Linked DNA regions of Homo sapiens. The protein of the gene in region 5 purifies or fractionates together with the protein of the main gene of each other region. This does not show direct contact. Each region holds a gene or a part of one and is shown on either strand. Other genes may lie near its edges. The genes, in order: TMOD3, MAP2K1, HERC5, MIB1, PDLIM5, CACNA1B and UBR3.

Region 1 (3,500 bases), on a different chromosome or scaffold from region 5:
ATCTTGAGACAGGGTGCACTGATTATCCAATAAATTCCATCTAAGAGTATCTTGTTACTTTCAAATATCACACACACACAGCATCTTGAGAAGATCAACTTAGATGAAGGTTTGAAAATTACTTTCCCGAGGTCAGGTGAAAAATCTGAATATATTTAGTCTGGAGAAGTACCTATTAAAAGAAGTTATCCTAGCTGTTTTCAGATTTATCCTGTAGAAGTTGAGAAGAGACAAATTTAGTGCTGTTCTGAGAGGCTGCGTTAGAACAAGTATAGATTGCCAAGAAGCAGAACTTGGTTCAAGACAAGGAAAAGCTTCCTAATGGAGCTCTGCTAAACAACAGAGAGTGGGATCCCTCTCACTTAAGTTCAGCAAGGTAGTCTTCAAGATAGCTAGGGAAGAACTTCCTCATTGAATGGAAAATTGAATAGTTCTAATTTTATAAAACCAAAAGATTTCTTTCCCCATTCCACACATCCTGTGGAGTGGGGAAAGATGGAATGGGGAGAGAAATCTTAAGAGCCTTGCCCCTTAATGAAATAATGAATCCAGTCAATGGGATGCAGGAATTATTAAGCAAAAGGTTCATGGGAAACTTAAAAAGGATGGGTCAGGCTGCCTACATTTGAACCCTGTGATCAATCTCATTCCCCCAAAGAGGAAGGATTAGACTTCATAAGCTTCTTAATATGATTCAGTCACCACCCATGAAGCATTCTTGCCAAAAGGGACCTGCACCTGCATCTCATCAAGCCACTAGAACTAACAGTTTACAGAAACATAGGTGATAGAAAAACATAAAATGATACCATAAGGTTGAAATCAGCCAAATCCAGAATGTGGAAAATTCTACGAAAAATAAACCCAGTTTCTTAAAAAATAAATGGCACAGAAAAAAAAAAAAAAAAGGAAAGAGGTTGGGGAGGAGAACTGTTAAGAAATTAAGGGAGACTAAAAAGACAAACAACCAAATGCAGTGTGTAACCTTTTTTGAGCCAATCATGAAACGACATTTTGGAGAGAACAGAGGAAATCTGGACACAGACTGGGTATTACATGATATGAAGAAAATACCGTTAATTTTTAAGTTTGATGATGGCATCATGATTACATTAAAAGAAAAGCCTTTATTTGTGAGACACACATATGGAAATATTTATAGGTATGTAATACAAATGAACAGGGTTTGCTTTAAAATACGTCAAGAAAAAAAAGTAGAAGGGTTAGGAAGGGAGACAGAAGATGAATAAAACAAGGCTGGCAAATGTTAAAAACAGCGGAAACTGGGTAATGAATATATTATTCTCTCTTCTTCTATGTGTGTTTGAACATTTCTACAATAAAAACTTAAAAATGAGAAGGGGGATGGTCAAATTACAAAACATCGTAGAAAGGAATGTTATACACATGTCTGAATGATGTAGATGTATACATATTAACTAGAAAACACGGTCGACTGCTAAGTGATACACTATATAACACGGGTTAAAATCCTTACCACTGACTTTGTGTAAAATATTGAGGTTACCCAATTATTTTAAAATGTCAGCTTTCTCACATGCAAATTAAAAATAATAATATCTATTTCATAGAACTGTTGTCAGGGCTAATAAGAGTACTTCACGTCCAAGAGCTGTGCACACAACATGGCCCACAGTAAGCATTCAAAAACAGTTGGCCAGGCACAGTGGCTCATGCCTGTAATCCCAGCACTTTGGGAGGCTGAGGTGGGCAGATCACCTGAGGTCAGGAGTTCGAGACCAGCCTGGCCAACATCGCAAAACCCCATCTCTACTAAAAAAAAAAAAAAAAAAATTAGCTGGACAAGGTGGCGTGCACCTGTCAAATCCTAGATACTCAGGTGGCTAAGGCAAGAGAAGCGCTTGAACCTGAGAGGCGGAGGTTGCAGTAAGCCAAGATGGTACCACTGCACTCCAGCCTGGGTGACAGAGCAAGACTCCGTTTCCAAAAAAAAAAAAAAAATTAGCTAATAGAATTATTATTGAAAAATTAAGTTGCAATAAATATTTACAGTATAATCGATTTTTTGTAAAAAATAAGAGACTATGTATAATATGTATACATTAGTATAAACAGTGCAAAGCCTGGAAGGGTATATACAAAATTGTTAACAGGGTAGGTGGTGTTTGGGGAAGTAGAGGGCATGATGGCTGGAGACAGAGACACTTTTACCTCTTCCCATAAATACTTATGTACTGTTTAAATGTGCTACAAAGGCATGTATCACCTTGCTAATTTAAGAACACCCTATACATGAATTTATTTTTTGAGATAGGGTCTTGCACTGTTGCCCAGGCTCGAGTGCAGTAGTGTGATCACAGCTCACTGCAGCCTCAAGCTCCTGGGCTCAAGCCATCCTCCCCTCAGCCTCCCAAGTAGCTGAGACTAGAGACATGTGCCACCATGCCCAGCTAATTTTTAAAATTTTTTAGAGATGGGGGTCTACGTTTCCAATGCTGGTCCTGAACTCCTGGACTCAAGCAATCCTCCTGCCTCAGCCTCAGAAAATGAAATTACAGTCATGATCCACCACACCTGGCCCCTATAAATGAGTTTCTGAAAAGCTTTGCTTTAGGCTATATAATACTTCACATCAGACTGAAAGGTTTAGGGGCTGAATAGTTTTGTGGTATCTCCTGAATCTGATTTTATAATGTAATTTCTTTGTAAGTACTGTTATGTATTTCTTGAAAATTAGTAGTAGTGATAATAAAATGTCAACAAAACCAAGTTGGACTAGCTTTTATACTGTTTAGCATTATTTAGTGAGGTAGAGTGGTTCTTATTACATTTGCTGACCCATTAAACACAAAATATTTAATACTCTATTTTCAATGGCTTTCTTGGTTAATACCACCAAACTGAAATGTCAGGTTTCAAGTACATATATATAACATCTAGTATGTGAACACTTAAGCTGACACAAGGCGAAAACAAAATATATTTAATAAAGGATTAGAATTCACAAAGCATTTTAAGTACTCACTTGAAAAATGTTCTTGGTCAACACCATTACTACTTCCCATTATATTACAGAACTTTGTATTCGTTATCAAATTGTGCATCCCAAGAATTGCTATAAATACAGAAAAAGAAAGTTTTTATTGTTTTAAACATGAAGAGTTTTACAACTAAAAATTTCTATCAATAATTTTAATATCCTCTGGACCTTTTCCTATAAATTACAGATCACACACCCACACAGAAAACAAAATGATTAAAAATCACCTATAATCTCATTCTCCTCAATACTCTTATTATTTTCCCCCACATTTCTAAATTTACATTTCCCCACATTTCCAAATTCAGAGTTGGAGGCAGCCTAATCCTGAACATAAATCTATGCTTAGCTCCATCTAGTGGCTAAGAGAGAAAATGGAAATGATCTATTTTTGCCGTTCATTAATTTCACAAGGTTTCTAGGAACATAATATGACAAAAAGCAGATTTTTAACTTAACCTTCATATTTTAATGTGTG
Region 2 (3,500 bases), on a different chromosome or scaffold from region 5:
GGAGGTTGCACACCAGCCTGGGCAACAAGAATGAAACTCCGTCTTAAAAAAAAAAAAAAATTCAAACAGCACAAAAAGGTATTGAGTAAAATCAGTCTTCCTTCTACCCTGGTCCCCAGGCTTCTAAGTACCCTGAGAAATAATCCAATTACCTGTTAATCAAGGCAAACTCACCTTTCTGGCCATGACCAGGCCAGAAGGCTTGTGGGAGACCTTGAACACCACACCGCCATTGCCAGCCCCCAGCTCACTGATCTTCTCAAAGTCGTCATCCTTCAGTTCTCCCACCTTCTGCTTCTGGGTAAGAAAGGCCTCAAGGCGCTTTCGCTGCTGCTCATCAAGCTCTAGCTCCTCCAGCTTCTTCTGCAAGGCCTCCAAGTTGGTCCTGTTCCAAAGTGGGGAGCACAAGTCAATACTGTCACCAGAGAAGTCAACCCAAAGAAGTACTCCTATCATGGAAAGAAAGCTCCAGGTCTGGGGCCAGACAGATAATCAAAGTGGGAGGCTAGAGAGGAGGCCCCCTCCCACTGTGGCTCTGCCCACTTCACTCCAGCCACCCGGGATGACTATCACCAACATGCTTTACCTCTCAGGGCTTCAATTTCCTCATTTATAAAGTGAAAAAATTAGGTCTTTCTCACTCAGTATGCTGCAAGTCAATGAGAGGAACAAAAGAACCTACTAAAATCCAGAATGAGCCACCTTAATTTGCTTTAAAACCCCAGTTTAAAAAGCCCCACTACTGTTGGTTTTATTGTTTTTACCATACGCAAAATAAAATACCCTAAATTCACTAAAATGAAATCAAACCAACTTTAAACTGAATCACAACAGTAGAAATCCTCATTTTCAATGTAATCAGGTCCAGGAACCAGGTTAATCAAAAAAGTCACAGCAAAAAATCATAAAAATTACATATCTAAAATTCTTATTTTTACTCAATGTATATAAATCTGCATTCATTCGCCCATTCTTTAACATAGGGCAAGACTCTTTGAATAAGGGTCCAAAGAGGACCCACTGGTTAAGAGGTCCACATCATCCTTCGCACATGGACCAGAACATAATACATTGTCGACAATTTCCTATTCCTGATTTGTTAAAGCTGGTTAAAGTTATATTGTGATTACTTGCAGAGTAATCACAATATAAAATTCTAGAGTTTTATGATTTCCCCCAATCTTAATGTTCATCTAGTTTGACAGTAATGTGTTTTAGTGACTTGGACTTATAAGTCTTTCCACAGCTTTTAACTAGTGTTCATAGGGGAAAAAAATCACTTCATTTGCAGCTACATTTCATCAGTTTATCTGATACCTAAATACATTACTTAACTACAATACCAGCTACAGCTGAACAAATGGGTTTGGGAACAAGCTGGCTCTTGGTAAGCACATAATTCAGCCAGTGGGTGCTGAAGCGAGTGGGTATGGCAGAGAGCAGCCTGCCTGCAGTGCATTCAGCATGCTGTGGGCATTGCTCAAGAGTGTTTCATCCAGGGAACTGAAAAGTGTTCATCACTCCTGTGAGTTGGTTAACAGGAAGGTGGTAAGAGTTTCCACTGTGTTTCACTGGATTTCATTGGGTTTCAAATTGAAGTCCCGGGAGGTGAAGCATGTCAGTGACAATTGTGTGGGGTGGCTGAAGTGACACAGGTGACAAGATAGGCCTTCATTATACATCATCATGTTGGTGTTCCTGCCAACACACACACCCCAGTTCTGAGCTTAAAAGATAGAGTAAGCATAATCTGCTCTTCCTTCACACCCTCTATCCCAAACCTCTAGAAGACAGGGAAATGAAGACTTAATGCCTCTCCATGTATGAGGAGATCTGACACTGCCTTACAAATAACATCATGCATGGGACCAAAGAAGATGCAAGGCCGAGGTTACTGATTTTCCTCACTGATTTTCCCCCCACCCCACCTGCTGCACACATCAAAGAAAGGCCATGCAAGCACACAGTAGGAAGGCAGCTATCTGCAAGCCAGGAAGAGGGCTCTTGCCAAAACCCAACCATGCTGGCACCCTGCTCTTAGACTTTCAGCCTCCAGAACAGTGGGAAAATAAACTATTGTTGTCTAAGCTACTTAGTCTATGATATGTTATCATAGCAGTCCAAGCAAACTGAGGCAGCTACTCAATATTTTCATCCAAGGTTCGGCTATGTCTTGCAGTGTCCCCAGTCCCTAAGGTGTGGGAACCCAGAACATGTGTGGCTGGGGGTGCACAGTGCACACTCTCTGGTTTCCTTTCTCCAAGGTCTCCCCACAAAGGAGCTTACTGAGGACCACATTTAGAAACACATGTCAAATGTAGATGGACCCCACAGCTAAAACCTGAGTGAGGTTACAGCTGCCTGACAGGCTCAGCAGGCCAGCTAGAAATGCAGATTCGAAAAGCTGTCAACACACACACACACACACACACACACACACACACACACACACTGTGCATGATGGGGGAATGGAAGGAGGGCTGCATGGAAGAAAAACTGCTTTCCTCACAACACTGTGTAACTCTCCTCAGTGCTTTACATTTATTAAGTCATTTAATCCACAACCCCTAATTAGAACAGATGAGCAAACTCAAGCACAGACAGGTGAACTAAGATGTCAAAGGTCAAAGAGCTGGTAAGTGGCACAGCCACGTTTCAAATTCAGGCAGAGAGAACGAATGTCTTACCTTAACCATGATGCTATATTATCTTCAAAAAGCTCAATACTTTCAAGGGAGGCAACTGACAAACATGGGTAAGATCCCAGTGTGAGGCATTTAACACACCAGGCCTCAATCATACATAAAGATGGTGTGCCCTACACAAAAAGGCCTTTGCACCAGAGACAATCCTGTCTCCCCTGCACATCAATCTGATGATGGATCTGCTGGAGCAGATTAACACTGCCTTGCAGCTAATACTCGCCATAGAAATTCAATCAATTTGCAAAGGAAAAGGGAATGCTGACTCTGTTCACTTTTCTGACTCTTTGAAATAAGTAATTCTTACACCTTCTGGAGGAAAAACTAAGCCTGAGCTTTGTGCTTCCTTTCTCCCTCCTCTACCTCCTATGCCTTGCCGTTTAACCACCCACCCTACCAGCTAATGAACTGGCTTCTGACCTGTACTTTCAGAAGCTGGCCAGTGAGAGAAATGACAAAGACTATAGGCTGGGGTGGTAAAGACTTTCCTAATGGCAGGTGTGTATGGATGAGGACTGGAGATGGAATCGTGTTGACAAATCACTAGTATTCAAGAGTCCTGGATTCTTATCACAAATTGTTCATCAACCAGCTGTGTGACCATGGACAAGTCACTTAACCTTGCCACATTTCAGATTTCTCCTCTATATATCATGGAATACTATGCAGACATAAAAAGGAACGAGATCACGTCCTTTGCGGGAACATGGGTGGAGCTGGAGGTCATTATTCTCAGCAAACTAACGCAGGTATACAAAACCAAATACCGCATGTTCTCACTAGTAAGTGGGAACTGAA
Region 3 (3,500 bases), 6.2 Mb from region 5:
TGCATGGTTGTGTATTTCTGAAAGTTAAATGTCTAGAAGTAGAATTGTTGAGTTGAAAAGGCAAATATGTTTTGATTTTGCTAAGTCCTGCCACACTGTTCTCTGAAAAGGAGTACCAATTTATATTTCCACGAATAATACCTGAAATTAAAATGAAAGTTTTCAAGCCCTTGCTAATACTATATAGCATCAACACTTCAAACCACTGTCAACTTGAAGTATAAATTAGCCTCTCACGTTAATATGCATTCTATGAGCACTGGTGAGATTGAAGACATTTTTATTTAGGAAGCATTTCTATTGCTTCTTTGCCAGGTTGCCTTCTTGGATACTTTGTGAATATTTCTTACGGATGTGTAGGAATGCTTTACACAGCAGGGATATGAAAACCCTTTTACTGTTGCCATTTTTTGGTGAGGTGGTGGCTTGTCTTTTAACTTAGAAATAAGTTTCCATTTTAAAGGTGATGACATGAAACAACATTTAACATAAATATCACTAGCAGATTTTGCACCAAGGTGTAACCTGTGCTCTGTGCATGACTGTTCCTACACAGAAAAAGTTGAAAGATTAATGCAAACATTGAAGTCTAGTTATGGGAATAATCAACACTTCCTAATTTTAGAAAACGAAATTATCATCCAACAATTCTTGTCAAAGTTAAAACTGGTCTAAAGTACCTAAAATGCTGCTGTTGAACATGGAAATATTATGAAGCGTGTGTACTTAAATATTTGCCTAAATATATGTTAGAAAGGGTCCTTTCTCAGGAACTCTGTTTACTTACTTTCCCAAATCAGGACTGAGTTCTTTCAAGTCTTCCAATGATGGCATTTGGTCCAAAAGTTTCTTAAACAGTGCCAGTGGGAAAGGAAGGTTGGCAACATTGCAATTGAACAGGGAAAGTCCACATAGAACCCCAAAAAAGAAGTATCTTTTCTTCTCAAATTTAGGCTGAAAAGCGAAAAAAAAATCTTAAAGTATTATGAGTTTTTACCAGTACAATGAAATATTTATATTAAATAAATCTTTGTTTCTCTTTCATAAAATCAAATCTCAAATTGAAAAATTTAAAGCCTGAGATAAGAATGTTTAGGGTTTATATTAGGTTGGTGCAAAAGTAATTGCAGGTTTTGCCATTAAAAGTAAAGGCAAAACCTGCAATTACTTTTGCACCAACCTAATATTTGGTCATTAAGTCAATTTAAATCCCTGCCACTCTCACGCTTGTAATCCCAGAACTTTGGGAGGTCAAGGTGGACAGATAACCTGAGGTCAGGAGTTTGAGACCAGCCTGGCCAAACTGGTGAAACCCCATCTCTACAAAAAATACAAAAACTACCCAGGTGTGTTGGCAGGAGCCTGTAATCCCAGTTATTGTAATCCCGCCAGGCTGAGGCAAGAGAATGGCTTGAGCTTGGGAGGCGGAGGTTGCAGTGAGTTAAGATCATGGCACTGTACTCCAGCCTGGGTGACAGAGTGAGATTCTGTCTCAAAAATAAAGCAAAACAAAACAAACAAACAAATAAAAAACCAAATAAATCCCTGCCACAGTTTTGGTTCCTAAAAGCATACCAGCAATAAAAATACATTAGGTTCAGTAATCCTTATAAACTAGTTTTCACAATTTCTTTCCACAGCCTTTGTCTTCAAATTCATTAGGAAAACAGAACTGACACAAAGAATGAGTACCTAAAAAAGAGAGGGTTCCTTTTTAATCCATGCATTATATAAATGATCAAAAAATATATTGCTTGAGTTCGATGTGAACAGACATGGGAACCCAGGAAAAGGAAACTCCATTTTAAAGAAAATAATCACCTTATTAGAATTATACATTATCTCCATAATTATATCAATACTCCTCTTCTAACATGAAATAGTCTAGACAAACTAATTTTCTATGGTATATGGTGTACTTTTTCTGTCGCAAAATACCTTAAGCAAAGAAGAGGGAACTTACCTTGACAGGAAACCACATGCAGGAAGCCCCTTCAGGATACATGAACATCCCATATTCCGGCTGGATCATCTCTGCAAACAGACAGTAGAAGAACTCTTTCTTGACTCCTCCGAGGTCATACCCAATTTCTCCACTAAATGAAACCTGAGGAAACAGAGCAAATAATACATCACTTCCAGGGCTCTATATTGCTATATATGAAGTCTCATTTAATAATAGTAAATAGCTAACATTAATTGTGGACCCAAGTATTTGGAAGGCACTGAGGTAAGTATCCTACTTATATTATCATATTTAATCTCTACATTAATTCTATGAGATAACGAGGCCTTGAGAATTTAAATAACTTTTCCAAGTTTATACAATAGTCAGGTGGTGCAGCCTAGTTTTTTTGTTTTGTTTTGTTTTTTGAGATGGAGTCTCACTCTGTTGTCTAGGCTGGAGTGCAGTGGTCTGATCTCGGCTCACTGCAACCTCCGCCTCCTGGGTTTAAGCGATTCTCCTGCCTCAGCCCCCAGAGTAGCTGGGATTACAGATATGCACCACCACGCCTGGCTAATTTTTTTGTATTTTAAGTAGAGACGGGGTTTCACTGTGTTGGCCAGGCTGCTCTTGAACTCCTGACCTCAAGTGATCCACCCACCTCAGCCTCCCAAAGCGCTGAGATTACAGCCATGAGCCACCACACCCGGCCTACAGCCTAAATTTAATCCTTTATCAGTCAAACCCCAGAGCCTAAAGTTTTTACCACTTTAGGTAAAAGTTTTACCTAAATTGACCTCAACTGGCATCACTATTATAGTCACCAGATCCAAGTATAATAAAAATAAACAGAAAGAAATCATAAAAATTGGCCGGGCGTGGTGGCTCACACCTGTAATGCCAGCACTTTGGGAGGCCGAGGTGGGCGGATCATGTGAGGTCAGGAGTTCGTGACCAGTCTGGCCAACATGGTGAAACCCCGTCTCTACTAAAAATACAAAAATTAGCTGGGTGTGGTGATGCATACCTGTAATCCCAGCTACTCAGGAGGCTGAGGCAGGAGACTCACTTGAACCCGGGAGATGAAGGTTGCCATGAGCCAAGGTCGCACCACTGCTCTCCAGCCTGGGCAACAGAGTGAGACTCTGTCTCAAAAATAAATAAATAAATAATAAAAATCAGGATATTCAAAAAACCAGAGCACACATAAGGTGTTTGCTGAAGTGGCTGTTTGCTCCCCGAGGAGGCTGCACCCCTACTGCTGACACCAATCCCTCCCAAGAGGATGCTATCATAACCCATCTTTGCTCCTTCAGTCACCCCTCCATTCCTGCCTTTTCCTGGAATCCTTCACTTCCATTCACAAACATGTTAAGGTCCCCCTTAACCTTAAAAGGAAAAAAAAAATCCCAACACATTGTCTCCAATACAAACACGGGCTCCTTCCACTCTTGCCAAACTTCAGAGATATACGCCAACTTCCAAACCCACTTCTCCACTTAAATGGGTCTCTCCAAGAAGAACAAGAACTGTAAATCCCCAAGCTCCAAGGACT
Region 4 (3,500 bases), on a different chromosome or scaffold from region 5:
AATTGTTGAGACTACAAAACCAGCCAGCAAAGCTCCCCATTGCTTTCACCAGGACTTGCAAAGGCAGCAAGGATTAAACAGCCAGAAACAGTGTAAGAGGGCTAGAGACTTCATACTTTCAAATTTAGTTGGTGTTCTATAAAAACTGAAGTAAGAAAAGCTAGCCAGATTTAAAGGAGGGAAAAAAACTACAAAAGAGGATAACTATTTTTAGGAAAAAGCTTATCAACAGCATATAGTAGACACTATGTAAACACCTGATATAATCTAGCAGCAATGAATCCCCAAACATTTATGTGTATATTTACTCAGGAGACAATAAGATTACAAAGGAGATAAAAGGAGAAAAAAAATGATTAAATGCTCCAAAAATTTTGTTTGTTTTTAAAGTCTACAGGTAAGCAGACATTTCTATACATGTCCTGGTCACTCTTTCTAAAGTATTTATAATTAGGTTATTGACCATGTCTTGGATATTGTTGGCAGTTTAAATAATACCCTCATCCGTAGGTATACACAGAAAGACTGTTTTCTTTATAACAAAAAATACTATAAAGAAAGAGATAATGGAAATAAGGCCTATAATGAAGACAGAATCACTAACACTGTCAGAATTAACTGATACAGAGAAGAAAAGATTTTTTCTTGGAAAAGGCATTAATTTTGCAGATCACTGGGATACTATGTACATCTGCAAAGCTAAATAGAACCTCAGAGGTCCAAATAGGGCAATGTCATTTCACTGGTCAGATCAAGCCCAGATAAGTAATCACAGAAAACCGGAAGTACACTTTTCATAGATTTTTTTTAAAAACACTGGCTGAACAAAATAGTGTATAAATTAATGTAAGAAAGGCAACTGTTAGTGGCCAGTTAATAGATACTCGTTTTTTTTTTCTCTTCAGTTGCCCACTATTATTGCTTATTTTTCCTTTTCTTGTCTATCAGTCACCTTGAAACTGGTAATCTGATTCAAGTTAAACAATGTTCCTTTTGAATCTAGAAAACAAGAGAAATGCAAAGTCATTATTCCCTCATTCTATGCTTCCATTTACTCTAAGAATTCAGAAACAAACATGTGGGTAACTTCCTGTTATCTTAAAAAAAGAATCATCCCTTCGGTATTCCCTTAACTATCTGGAACTTGTACTGTCATTTTATAATTTACCATGTGACATAATTGTTTGACCTGCCTCTTTTATTTGATGCATGACTTCTCAGAGAACCTGTTATCAACTCACTGTGTAAAACCACGATGAAATGAAGGATAACTGATCACAAAGAATTATGTCTTTTGAGATCCAACAAATTTACAAATTATAAGAGAAAAATGCAATTTTTTAAAAAAGGATATCCTTAAAGGACTTTCCTCTTAGAAGCCAAAGGTAAATTATCCTATGAGTTACATGAATTTGATGTTTCAAATTTAAAACAAAAACAAAAAACACAATTTCCAACACCATTTTGTAGGGTTTTTTGTTCTGGTACATTTACAGCCCAATTATACTCTAGTAAAGAAACTATGATATTAGAAATTAACTCATCAGAACTTCCAACTAGATCAAAAGCCTATTAAGATCTCATGACTAGATACATTAGCTAACAAAATACACCATGTGTCTTAGTTAATACAAAAGAATCCTTCGTTCAATAGCCTTGCGACAGATAGGACATTCACTCATGCGGTCTCCACAGAGTTGACAGGTTCCGTGACCACAAAGGAAAATCATATTCTTCAGACGATCTAGACACACAGGGCACATTGTCTGTAATGTGAGATAACAAAGTAATAAATTAGACACTTTATATTTGGAAAGTGACAGACTGTTATATATCATTAATTTTCTTTAGTTGTTTTAGTCAAATAATATTTTGGTGGTTTTTAAAAACAATTTTTTAACATTTTTAAATAGTTAAAATGTCATCCCTATAAAATAAAATAGAAACACTGGTTGTACTATCAGGATAGTATGAAAGGTACTACATAAGATTAAAAACTATTAATATATAAAACACAGCCAGACACCCTGGCTCACACCTGTAATCCCAGCTACTCAAGAGGCTGAGGCGCGAGAATCACTTGAACGCGGGCAGCAGAGATTGCAGTAAGCCAAGATCGCGCCGCTGTGATAGAGGCAGGAGGCAGAGAAATTCTAGGCAGACAAGGGTGGGTCCCCAGTGAAACCCAACCTTTGAGCTGAAAAGCCTGAAACCCACAGGCCAAAGTGAGAACTTCTATTCCTGCTTGCCCACTCTCTCCCAATTGGTTCTTTCTTTCTTTTTTTTTGAGATGGAGTCTCACTCTGTCGCCAGGCTGGAGTGCAGTGGCGCAATCTCGGCTCACTGCAACCTCCGCCTCCTGGATTCAAGTGATTCTACTGCCTCAGCCTCCTGAGTAGCTGGGACTACAGGTGCGCACCACCACACCCAGCTAATTTTTTTGTATTTTTAGTAGAGATGGGGTTTCACCATGTTGGTCAGGATGGTCTTGATCTTCTGACCTCGTGATCTGCCCACCTCAGCCTCCCAAAGTGCTGGGATTACAGGCATGAGCCACCACGCCCAGCCCAACTGGTTCTTTCTAAATAATGTCTTTTTACCAATCGATTGTTGCCTTTTCCAAAACTACCCACAGCCCACCCTGCCCACTCCTCCCATGTTGTGCCTTTAAAGACTCCAGACCCAGGTAGTAGAGGGGAGAGAGGCAACTTGACTTCAAAGGGATGACTGGACTTCGGAGGAGAGATGGCTTAACTTCAGGGAAGAGATGGCCGGACTTCAGGGGAAGATTACCTACCCGTCCCACCCCCACTCCAGTTCCCCTCTCTGCTGAGAGCCATTTCCATCACTTAATAAAACTCTCTGCCTTCACCATCCTTCAAGTGTCCAGGTGACCTCATTCTTCTTGAACACTGGACAAGAGCTCGGGACACACCGAGTGTGGGTACCCAAAATAAGGCTGTTACACTGGCCCTTTGCCCTCACTGGCGGAGGGCAGCTACCCCACACTATGAGGCAAGGGGCCAACTGAGCTGATAACACACCGCTGTCCGTGGACGGCAGAACTAAGAGAGCACTCTAACATGCCCTCAGGGGCTTTGGAGTCGCAGGCACCCCCACCTGGGTGCCGCTGCATGGATCCTGCAATTGCTCGTTCATGTGCTCCCTCCCGCAAACAGTTGAGCACAGTGGCCAAGTAAGCAGCGCACCTCTGTCGCAAGTATGACAAAGGGGTTGAGAAAAATCCTGCATCAACTGCTCTCCAGCCTGGGCGACAGAGCAAGGACTCTGTCTCAAAACAAACAAACAAAAAAACCTATATAAACCAAAACGTAATAGGAAATGGATGAAAATAGCTCCATTCAGTCTAACTGAAATTCCCTGAATCTAGGTACTCAGCTGCTCTTGCATAAAAAGAAGGCAATGTATCATGCAATACATGGTGCAGGGTGGGGAGCAGTGCTGAGAAGTAGCTGAGAACACTTGTCAGGCACTATGCT
Region 5 (3,500 bases):
GCCAACTAAGTTTGAGAATAAAATTTCTAGAGTTAGCCTGGATATGGACCTCTTTTATGCAATGTCCAACCAATTAAATACTTGCTCAATTTTCCTTCTTAAGGACTGAACTCATGGGTGTTGGGTGTTGTAAATTCACAGAGGGACTCTGCATTGATGTGAAAAGAAAACGGGAGACGTGCACTTAAGGGATTCCTTCAAGAAAGGGCACTCCCCACCCTTTTTCTGCCTAAGGGAATTTGGTGATGTTTTATTGAGCTGAAATGAGGCAATCTGTCTGCATCATGGGTAGGATTGAGAATGAGGATGTTAACTGTGACTGTGACAGAACATGAGGCAACCAGAAAAAAATATATGGTTTAGGCAGAGATGAGACTTTGACACTTCTACAAAAGAAACAAACAAAAACTTCAATTTGGTAAGTCATAGTGCTAAAAATAGTAATAACTATTACCTGAGACAATTTCTCTTCCCCACAATTTCTCTTCCCCACACATTCTTTCATGTATTTATTTCTCAACTTTACTAAACACATCAAGTCCTCACCCTCCAAAATGACTACAGGAACTGTAAACTAGGTATTATCAATTGTCTGAAACTACTCAGAAAGGTTTCATTTCACTCAAATATGACTGATTTATTTCAAAAATTTAATTTTATTGTGGTAAGAACCCTTAAAATGAGATCCACTCTCTTAACAGATTTTTAAGAGTACAATGTAGTATTGTTAATTATGGGCACAATGTTGTACAGCAGATCTCTAGAACTTATTCATCTTGTATAACTGAAATTTTATACCCACTGTGCACCAACTTCCCTCTCCCCCCTCCCCAACATGACCGATTTTTAACACACATTTGTATCAAGGTAACAAATGTTTGTAAGAGATTTTTTTCCCCATTAAATACTTTATGGTCATGAACTGATAAGATGGGCTTGGTTTGCTTGGCAGGAATCCATTATGAAGCCTTATCTAGTCATGAAGCCTGCAGAGACTAACCATTCTAGCCTCTGCAACATACTTTTCAGTAGCTATATCACACTAATTTATATTCATAGAGCAGCTTTACCTCCAAGGCACTTTTACACTTATCTAATTTGTCCATGCAACATTCCTGTGAGACAGACCAGGACAGTTATTATGAATTCAGTTTAACAGATGGAGAAGCCAAGGTACAGAATGTTCAAAAGATATGACAAATATCATAAAATCACTGACCCAGCCAAGGCCAGAAGTTGAATTTCCTGATTTCTAGTATGCCGCTCTAGTCAACTGATATTCTGCCTTTGACCTCATTAACATCACTTATCATCCCTAAGCGACCACATGGTAATTGTTGGTAAGCATCAGACACCAGACTTCCAGGCAGATTATTAACAGGAGAAGTCATAGCAATGAGTATCGCAAAGTCACAGCATTTTTAAAATTCTGACAATAACATAAACCTTGCTATTCAATAACTATCTCCCACTGTAAATTCTTTGTCACCATATTGATGTTTACTCAGAATCAGCACCTAATTCTGCAAGAGTCACAAAAGGAGAAAGGCTCTTGATGAGTGATTAAAAATTTTTACGTGGGGTGTAAGAGGGTATTTTCTAGCCCTACTTTTTGTTAACTTGTTTCTTATTAATAACATGATGCCATTTTGTATAAGCTAGTACATATCATTCTCTTAAGTTTGAGATAGGCAGTTTATTATTATTATTTTTAAAACTTTAGGGTACCATAATTTTGTTATGACTAATAAGGAATGCCTTTGTTTACTAATTCCTGCCAGAAAAGAAAGGCTACAGATCACCTATTCTGTAATCGAATATATTACTTTTGGTAAGTGGTCCATCATTTTCAACTGACTTATAAAATAACAATCCTATTCAACGAGTTCCTTCATCTAATTTTCTCAGTGTATGTTTGGCAAGTAGTTTATCAGCAAAGATAAACCAGGAATCACACTGCTCAAAGCCAGACAAAGTTTGATGAGTGCCCTGTGTTTTTCCGCCAGGTGGGCAACTGGTTATACACGCATGAAAAATCTTCCAGGCTCAATTTACTGTGACCATAACACAGAGCATGGTAGAGCTTTGGGGTTTCATGCTACTCTCTGGCTGCACATTAAAACAGATTCAAAGCCATTTACTAGGGTGAGTTTTTTACTAGGGCACATCTTTAGCTCATCCATAAGGCTGGAGGACTCTTGAGGCTAGTATTCTTATTTGGCTTCTCAGTTTTCAAAGAAGTCAATCCAACTTCAAACTGCATTCTGTTAAAGCATAAGTGTTGGTATGTACCTGGAACAAAATGAAAAGCTCTGCTCCTGGAACATGTCTATCAATGCTATCAAATATTTGACAAAGTTCATCTGAGAAGAAAAAAAGACATTTAAGAATAACTGACCAAGGAAAATACATTCCATTTGCCAGATTTTCTAAAATATGTATTGAGTTCAAGTCAGATCATCAGAAAACTGGGTTCTGTGAATCACAGCATATTGGGCCTGCTGCACCCCGCAGGATTATTCCTTTTATGAACGGTGCTTGTTGTGATACATGAACCTGTACTGGTAGTTGTTACAGGACACAGCTCTATGAAATTCACCCTTGCTCTTCCTGCAAGTTGTTGCTGGAGTGTTGTTAGATCTCATCCAGCGTCACTTTCACATGGTCTCATTCAGAAAAATTCCTCCCTGATTTCTGCAGCAAGAACTATTATGCTTTTCCTCAGCAGTAGTCTTATTTTTATCTTATTGTAAATTGCAAAACTACCTTTCATTTTTGGTAGACTACTAGAAGGCCTAAAGCCAGATTTACAGTCTAACCAGAGGCAAGTGGGCAGGTCATTATTTTAGTATCGTCCAGTCTCGACGTTAGCTTCATTTTTAACGAGCCTATCGATGAATTTCATTCTTTTTCCCCTTTTGTAATTTATAAGATTATCTTATATTTCACATACCTGTAAAAGTCTTTTTACAAACTTGCTGGAATATAGTTCACTATAAATACATAAATTAAAACTACAGTCCATTAAAAGGATGACTTTAAAATATTTCATTAGTTCCTTTCAAATAGCAAAAGGAATTTTAGACAGTAAAGAAATTCCCACTGCACCTTTAAAAAACAAGCTGAAAATGACCCTTGCTCCTCTCAGATCTCCTTTCTTAAACAAGCATGCTCAGGGCAACTACTGGCCTAACTTGATACTTCTTGGCTGTCCTGAAAGAGCATCTTTCTCCATCAATGCCCTTGAAATTATGCACAGATTAAACAATAAAATTAATCTTTCACATATAGCAAAGTGTTTTCTTCTCTGTGTCAGCAAAGACTAATTTAACAAATTCATTAACACAGGATTAACACTAAAGAAGTTCTTCTTGTTCCAGGTAGGATTGGGTTTCCATTTGTGAACAGGAATGACAGGCCTAGATAACTGCAGAGTGGAATTAAGTATTCAGCTATCTCTTCTAGTATTCGATGTCCTGTGAGCCCTTACTAAGTACATG
Region 6 (3,500 bases), on a different chromosome or scaffold from region 5:
ATTCTAAGATTGCAAAGATATTTCATATCAAAAAATTCATTACTATAAATCCCCATATCTAAGGAGAAAAAAATATATGATCTCTATGGATGCTGAAAAGGTCTTCAAGAAAATTCAACATCTATTCCAGATAAAAACACTTACTGAAGTAGGAACTAATGGATACCACAACATAATTTTACACACACACAAACAGACACACACACACATCCCTCAGGCCCCAAACCAAAATTTTATTTAATGTAGGCGGAAACAAGGTAATGCCCAGTAATTCCATTGTTATCTGATAGTGAAATCAGACAAAAAAATAATAATGAGTGGTGTAAGACTTAGAAAGAGTTAGAAGTATATTTGCAGAAGTTTTGATAATATATCTCGGAAAAAAAGGGGGAATCAGTGAAACTAATAAACAATTTGAGGATTCAGAAAAGTAGCAGGATACATAATCAACATATAAAAACTAATAGCCTAGATTTCTGTTTCTAGTAGAAGTAATAATAGGGACCAGACAATCAGTTGTTTTTAGCAATCGAAAACACCAGACATTAAGAGAATGAAAAACCAAGCCACAAAATGGGAGAAAATGCTTGCAAAAACACATATCTGATGAAAGACTTGTATCCAAAATATACAAAGAACTCCTAAAACTCAACAACTAGAAAACAAACAGCCAGAATAAAAAGTGGGTAAAAGATTTGAATAGGAATCTCATCAAAGAAAATTATACACATGGCAAATAAGCACATTAAAAGATGCTCAACGTCATATGTCATTAGGAAATTGCAAAATAAACAAGATATCATTACACGCTTAATTAGAATAACTCAAATCCAAAACACTGACAACACTGAATATTGGCAAGGATGTGGAGCAACAGGAACTCTCATTCATTGCTGGTGGGAATGCAAAATGGTACAGTCCCTTTGGAAGATAGTTTGTCAGTTTCTTATAAAGATAAACAGTCTTACCATATAATCCAATAAGCATGCTATTAAGTATTTACCCAAATGAGTTGAAAACTTATGTCCACACAAAAACCTGAACATGAATGTTTAAAGCAGTTTTATTCATAATTGCCAAAAATTGGAAGCAACAAGATGTCCTTCAATAGGTGAATAAATAAACTGTGGTATGCCCAAAAGACAGACTATTAATCCAACGCTTAAAACAAATGAGCTGTCAAGCCACAAAAAGACACAAAGGAAACTTAAGTGCATATTGCTAATGGAAAGAAGCCAATCTGAAAAGGCTGCATACTGTATGATTCCAACCCTATGACAGTCTAGAAAAGGCAAAACTATAGGGACAGTGAAAAAATCAGTGGTTGCCAACAGGGGTGTGGGGAAGAGCATAGGGAGCCTGGGGAGGAGTCACATCTGGATTCCTGCAGATAAAAGCCAGGTAGGGAACCTAGGCTCATCCTCAAGCTGATCCACAGAGAATCAGGTGAGGGAGCTGGGCAGGCAGACTCACTTGTGCCCATGGGAAGTGAACAAGAAAATGAACCAAGGGCAACTTTCCTCCAAGGAAGCAAAGGAAAAGGGGAGGCTGAGCAGTTAGAGGCTGTGTCTTCCATGGTTATACCTGGAATTGTGCGCCAGTCCACAGGCCCCAGGTGAGAGCACCTGAGCAAGAGAGAATGTCATGCACATGTGTGTGTCTGGAGATCTGTCTGCAAACATGGGCACGCACACGTCTGTGTGTGCGGATGCATCTGCAAACACGGACATGCACACATCTGTGTGTGGAGATCCGTCTGCAAACATGGGCATGCATGTGGTGGCACCTGATTGAGTCCGTCTGGTCTGCTTAAGACCTAAATGCTTCTGCTGGCATTCATGTGAGTCCTGTTTCTATGGCCTCTCTTCTACCCCTTTTTTCTCTGTACTTAAGAAAGGAGGGCTCCTCCTTGATGCCCATGAAACGCCCATGCACCTTCCCCACCACGTAAGGGGCCTGTATTTGTAACCAGCAGATCTCTCCCTATTAGACAGGTTTCAAGACAGGAATGACATCTTGGTCCCCTGTGCCCTCAGGGACTGCACACAGGCAGGCATGGAAAGGCTGTTCCGAGCATGTGAGTGAGCAAGGGGAGGAAAGAAGGCAGCTCAAATAAAGGCCTGGGAGCACAGCCTCAGAGCAGGGATGGCACAGGCCCATGAACAAATGGGCAGACGCAGTGGAGAGCCTCCTCCTCTGCAGCCCCTCGCTCTCAGCCCCAGTCAAGGCCGTGGACAGAGTCCTCAGCCAGCAGCTTTTGTGCAACCATCAAGAGTTGTGCCTGTTTTGTGGTCTGTCTTCCTGACAAGACTGTCTCCCTCCTACTATGCTCTCAGCACTCTAACACAGCACCTGGCACTTAGTTGGCAACGTGCAAATATTTTGGGAAGGAAGGAGAATGGAGCTCAACCTCAGTTATCTCTGGGGCACTAGAAATCAACAGGACATCAAGGGACAGATGTTGACAGCAAAGGACTCTCTCTCCAGCCAGGAGAACAATTCACAGAGGTAGGCTGGGTCCCCAGTGGCTGCTGTGGAGCAGGAGGGAATGGGGGTTGCTGGACCTGCACAAGATGGGCCCTGCCCCACTGGCACAGGGAGATACTCACTGGGAACGACCGTGGCTTCCCCAAGAGGGCCCGTCAGCATCACTGGGATATGTACAATAGTGTTCGGGTCTGGGGGCTGACTGCCCATGCGAGTGACGTTCCGCTGATTGTCTGCATCCTCTGGCTGTTCCTCCACCTTCTGGAGACAGGTGCTGGGCAGTGTGTGCATGGGACCCACAGTCACAGTCCCACTGGTCTCCAGGTCACAGTGTGGCTCCCTGCAATCAAGAATGTACATCAGGCCTCGGCGCAGTGGCTCACACCTGTGATCCCGGCACCGGGAGGCAGAGGCAGGAGGATCACTTGAGCCCAGGAGTTCAAGACCAGCCTGGGGAATATGGCGAAACCCCATCTCTACAAAAATTAAAAAATTAGCTGGGCGTGGTGACACGTGCATGTAGTCCCAGCTATTCAGGCTGGGAAGGCTGAGGTGGGAGGATCGCTTCAGCCCGGGAAGTTGAGGCTGCAGTGAGCCATGATTGCGCCACTGCACTCCACCCTGGGCGACAGTGCGGTCCTGTCTCCAATAATAATAATAATAATGCACATCAGCAAAATCCTATCAACCAAAACCCTTAAGCCTCCATGCAGACCAACTAAATCCATAACCACCTGCTCTGCTACTCTGGCCTTCTGTACGTTTTTTAAATTACTCTATACACCTCCGTGTCTTTAGTCCGAAAGGCAGGGATGGGGCTGACCCACCCACACACAAAGACAGGGCGGCGGCTGGGTTGACCCTGGGCTGGGGCCTCCAGCGGCAAGTATTCTGGTTGGTTTGTGGCCAGTGGGTACCTGGCGACTGCTGGTCTTGGCCACTGGACCACTGTTACCCCAGGCCCTCACGGGGTTGGTGAGTCCTGCCCCAGGGAGCAAGCTGGGCTAGCTGGG
Region 7 (3,500 bases), on a different chromosome or scaffold from region 5:
CTAATTAACAAAAATAACAATCTTACCTCATTTTCAACCTTCTAATTTTGTCAGTAGATTTATTACATTCTAGGCTATTACTAATTCAAACTTAATGAATGGTCATCTGAATTATATGTTACTGAATGTCCTTTCTCCCACGGAAACAAATTTTGTGTTAGTTCTTTATAACTCCAATTTAGGAATTCTCCTAAATTCTTAATCTACCATAAGCTTTTGCATATATTAATATAAATTTTTTATAACAAACTTTTTTTTTTGAGATGGAGTCTCATTCTGTCGCCAGGCTGGAGTGCAGCAGCGCGATCTCAGCTCACTGCAACCTCTGTCTCCCAGGTTCAAGCAATTCTCCTGCCTCAGCCTCCCTAGTAGCTGGGACTACAGGCACACGCCACCACGCCCAGCTAATTTTTATGTTTTTAGTAGAGACGAGGTTTCACCATGTTGGCCAGGATGGTCTTGATCTCCTGACCTTGTGATCCACTCACCTCGGCCTCCCAACAAACTTTTAATTACATCAGAGATGTAGTGTAACTATATATGTGACTAAAATTGCTCCTTATACAGGTACCAACGGATGACCTCCTAACTAACAAATCAAATAGGATGGCCAATCTTATTGAACTCCTGTAGCACTTAACAATTTTGATAAGTTTCTTGCTTTCTGAACTTCCTCTTGTGACTTCTCTAATGCCACTCACCCCAGTTTTTCTCTTACTCTGCTCAGCCATCCCTTCGTCAGTCACCTTTGTAGGTACCCCTTCCTCAGTCATTCCCTTTAATGTTTTTCCCTTAAGTTCTACATTCAGTCTTCTCATTTTCTTACTGTAAACCTTCTCCCATATACAAGGATTTACTACTACCTAGCTGCTCAAATCTGTAGCTCTAAGAATTCTCCCTTAAGTTTTAAACCCTATATCTGACTGGACACCTTCACCTGGGTGTCCCTCTTAAACTTAGTAGCGTCCAGAACTGAACAGATCACTTTTACTAATGAGCCTGGGACCCCTCCTACACTCCATTATCTTGGTAAAAGGAACATTATTCAAGTCAGAAATCAGGGCACCATTCAAGACATCTCCCTCATTTCTCACATCAACCTGATGACTGAGTCTAACAACTTGTACCTGCTAAATATCTCATACACATCTCCTCCTCTCTTTATTATCATCACTGTCTTAGTTCAGACCCTTACCACACCTGCCCCACTAGATGACTAAGTAGCTTGCTCTCCCAATTTCCAGTCTTACCCCACTCTAATCTACCCTCATGTAATTACCCTATATATTATTCCTCACTTAAAATCCTTCCACAGTTTCCCTGTAACCATTTATACCCTGTGCGAGTTAACGATACATGGTTACCTTCTTAGCCTTATGTCCTACTACTCCCATTAACACCCTGTGTACCTAAGATAGTATCTGTTACACTATGTTAACACTACTAACAAACTATCTGTTTACCAGTCTGTCTCTCCATTATAGTATCAATTCCTCGAGGTCAGGAAGTCCAACACCAGACACAGATATGTCTAGAAAACTGCTTGACTGACACCCAATGAATGAGAAACGGATCAATCAAGTAAGATCCATCTTAGGCTTGCTTCCACTGATCATTTAACCCATAACTGCCTATATTTAATTTTAAAAGTAACTAAGAAGATGAAATTATCCAGAAAATACCTCTAAAGTACACTTCAAACTGCTAAATAATGTATTAGTCATACTGCTCACAACAGTAGTCCAGATAACTCTGTTGACAATGATTTTTACCTATATAAAACAGATTGAGATGATAAAGGTCCTAGGTTCTTAAATTAAGATAATATTGATGTGATCTCTTTGGACCCTCCCTAACGGGAAATGTGTACCCTTCCCCTATAATTGTTGCTTTGGTAGACAAATTTGTCTTAAATAATAAAGAAATTAAAACAATGAATATTATTTATAACCTCAGAGAAGTGAGCAATGACTATCTTGAATTTGATCTGAAATCTTTTTTTTAAATGTCCTGGGTCTTTTAGCCTGTGTACACTCATTAGAAGGCATGCTCTTTTTTTTTTTCTTTAATAAACACTGAACCCTTTCCAAGAGTTTGACAATTATGCAGAGTTTCAATCTCTCAAGATTCACCTTGTCATGTTTATGACAGCAGGGTCAGCAATGTTGACAAGGCTCTTGGGAAACAATTTGTGACAATGCACAGTAACACAACTCTTCTGGCAAACAATGTACCACTAAAAAAAAGAACCAAACCATGCTCATAGTCCTTGACCCACAAACCCCACATAACATAGTATATATCTTGAGATTTTAAAAAAATCCCATTTTTTTTTCAAGAAAGTCAAAAGATGAAAAAAAAGTTTATAAATATAATTTAACAACAAATTATAAGCAACCTAAAGATCCAAAAGCTAGAAGCATAAGTTAGTCAGAATGTGTTTTAAAACATCACTTTTTAAAAATCAGCAATCATATATTAATAAAGATTAGAAAAGACCAAAAGAAACTAAAGCAGTTGGATTTTTATTTTGAGAAATATTTTAAATATTTTTAATATTCTCATTTAAAGCTGAACAGTTCAACTTTAACAGTAAGAGAATTATTAGATCCCTACAGCAATAAAAGCAGTAGCAATTTTTCCAAAGAGACACACAGGTTTAAGGTAGTAATTTTACATTGGGGTCAGAAAGTCTCACCTGTCCATCAATAAACTCAATACATCACATGTACAAGCACTGACTATGCTCCATTCCATTTATGTTACAAACTAATCAGCTATGACTGTTCCTGTTAAACATCCAGGTGATTATCCTCAAATGACCAAAAGGAAGAAAATATCAAATTTTCAACTATACACACGTTTAAAACATTAAAAATAAAAATTACCTTTCTTCTTTGTCCAATGTTTTCTTCTCTGCTGCAGTGACTTTTTTAGGTGGTACAGGAGGGGTCACTTTTCTACATATCTCTTCAATGATGCGTTTGTTCATTCTACTTTGCGATGCAGCTTTTAGTAAAATTCTTTCCACGGCAGTTATACCATCTCCATGACTGTATTTAGGAATTTCTGGTTGGATTAAAATTTCTATGTCATCAAGCCAAGGAGGATAGTAGGAGTTTTGTTTTCCTGAGAGTTTGTGGTGAAGTTTAATTAGCAAAGACAATATGCTTTCTTTAATTTCCAAAATGGCTGTAGTTAACTGTGGAGCTGAACCAGGAGCAGACCATTTACTTGAAGTTTTGGGACGAACCACCTGATTTGCTTCACTGCTACTGCGATTGATGATTTCCTGAAATTTCTTTCTACGTTCTGCTACTAAACTGAAAACTTGAGCTGTACCAGAATTCTACCATTAACAAAGAGAAACAAAGAAAAATCAAGAGAAGTTATTTAGCATCATTTTAAAAACATATTAGTACTATATTTTCTAAAGGGAATGCTCAGTTTCATACAAAGATTTATTCAATAGATTTGCTCTTTAAATAAATTTCTCCCTT

The links.
Region 1: the proteins of PDLIM5 (region 5) and TMOD3 fractionate together in Homo sapiens (co-fractionation; one large-scale study listed by BioGRID). This does not show direct contact.
Region 2: the proteins of PDLIM5 (region 5) and MAP2K1 fractionate together in Homo sapiens (co-fractionation; one large-scale study listed by BioGRID). This does not show direct contact.
Region 3: the proteins of PDLIM5 (region 5) and HERC5 purify together in Homo sapiens (affinity purification with mass spectrometry, with the first as the bait; one large-scale study listed by BioGRID). This does not show direct contact.
Region 4: the proteins of PDLIM5 (region 5) and MIB1 purify together in Homo sapiens (affinity purification with mass spectrometry, with the first as the bait; one large-scale study listed by BioGRID). This does not show direct contact.
Region 6: the proteins of PDLIM5 (region 5) and CACNA1B purify together in Homo sapiens (affinity purification with western blotting, with the first as the bait; one study listed by BioGRID). This does not show direct contact.
Region 7: the proteins of PDLIM5 (region 5) and UBR3 purify together in Homo sapiens (affinity purification with mass spectrometry; one large-scale study listed by BioGRID and IntAct). This does not show direct contact.

The regions. Positions count from the first base shown.
Region 1 is NC_000015.10:51,888,653-51,892,152, reverse strand, and holds part of TMOD3 (tropomodulin-3), read right to left. Parts: intron 3,098-3,500; coding exon 3,008-3,097; intron 1-3,007. UniProt on the Homo sapiens protein: Blocks the elongation and depolymerization of the actin filaments at the pointed end. The Tmod/TM complex contributes to the formation of the short actin protofilament, which in turn defines the geometry of the membrane skeleton.
Region 2 is NC_000015.10:66,431,912-66,435,411, reverse strand, and holds part of MAP2K1 (dual specificity mitogen-activated protein kinase kinase 1), read right to left. Parts: intron 386-3,500; coding exon 175-385; intron 1-174. UniProt on the Homo sapiens protein: Dual specificity protein kinase which acts as an essential component of the MAP kinase signal transduction pathway.
Region 3 is NC_000004.12:88,491,619-88,495,118, reverse strand, and holds part of HERC5 (E3 ISG15--protein ligase HERC5), read right to left. Parts: intron 2,108-3,500; coding exon 1,964-2,107; intron 955-1,963; coding exon 788-954; intron 1-787.
Region 4 is NC_000018.10:21,862,792-21,866,291, reverse strand, and holds part of MIB1 (E3 ubiquitin-protein ligase MIB1), read right to left. Parts: intron 1,767-3,500; coding exon 1,626-1,766; 3' UTR 1-1,625. UniProt on the Homo sapiens protein: E3 ubiquitin-protein ligase that mediates ubiquitination of Delta receptors, which act as ligands of Notch proteins.
Region 5 is NC_000004.12:94,650,942-94,654,441, reverse strand, and holds part of PDLIM5 (PDZ and LIM domain protein 5), read right to left. Parts: intron 1-3,500. UniProt on the Homo sapiens protein: May play an important role in the heart development by scaffolding PKC to the Z-disk region. May play a role in the regulation of cardiomyocyte expansion. Isoforms lacking the LIM domains may negatively modulate the scaffolding activity of isoform 1.
Region 6 is NC_000009.12:138,024,282-138,027,781, reverse strand, and holds part of CACNA1B (voltage-dependent N-type calcium channel subunit alpha-1B), read right to left. Parts: intron 2,828-3,500; coding exon 2,610-2,827; intron 1-2,609. UniProt on the Homo sapiens protein: Voltage-sensitive calcium channels (VSCC) mediate the entry of calcium ions into excitable cells and are also involved in a variety of calcium-dependent processes, including muscle contraction, hormone or neurotransmitter release, gene expression, cell motility, cell division and cell death.
Region 7 is NC_000002.12:169,949,454-169,952,953, reverse strand, and holds part of UBR3 (E3 ubiquitin-protein ligase UBR3), read right to left. Parts: intron 3,350-3,500; coding exon 2,889-3,349; intron 1-2,888. UniProt on the Homo sapiens protein: E3 ubiquitin-protein ligase which is a component of the N-end rule pathway. Does not bind to proteins bearing specific N-terminal residues that are destabilizing according to the N-end rule, leading to their ubiquitination and subsequent degradation.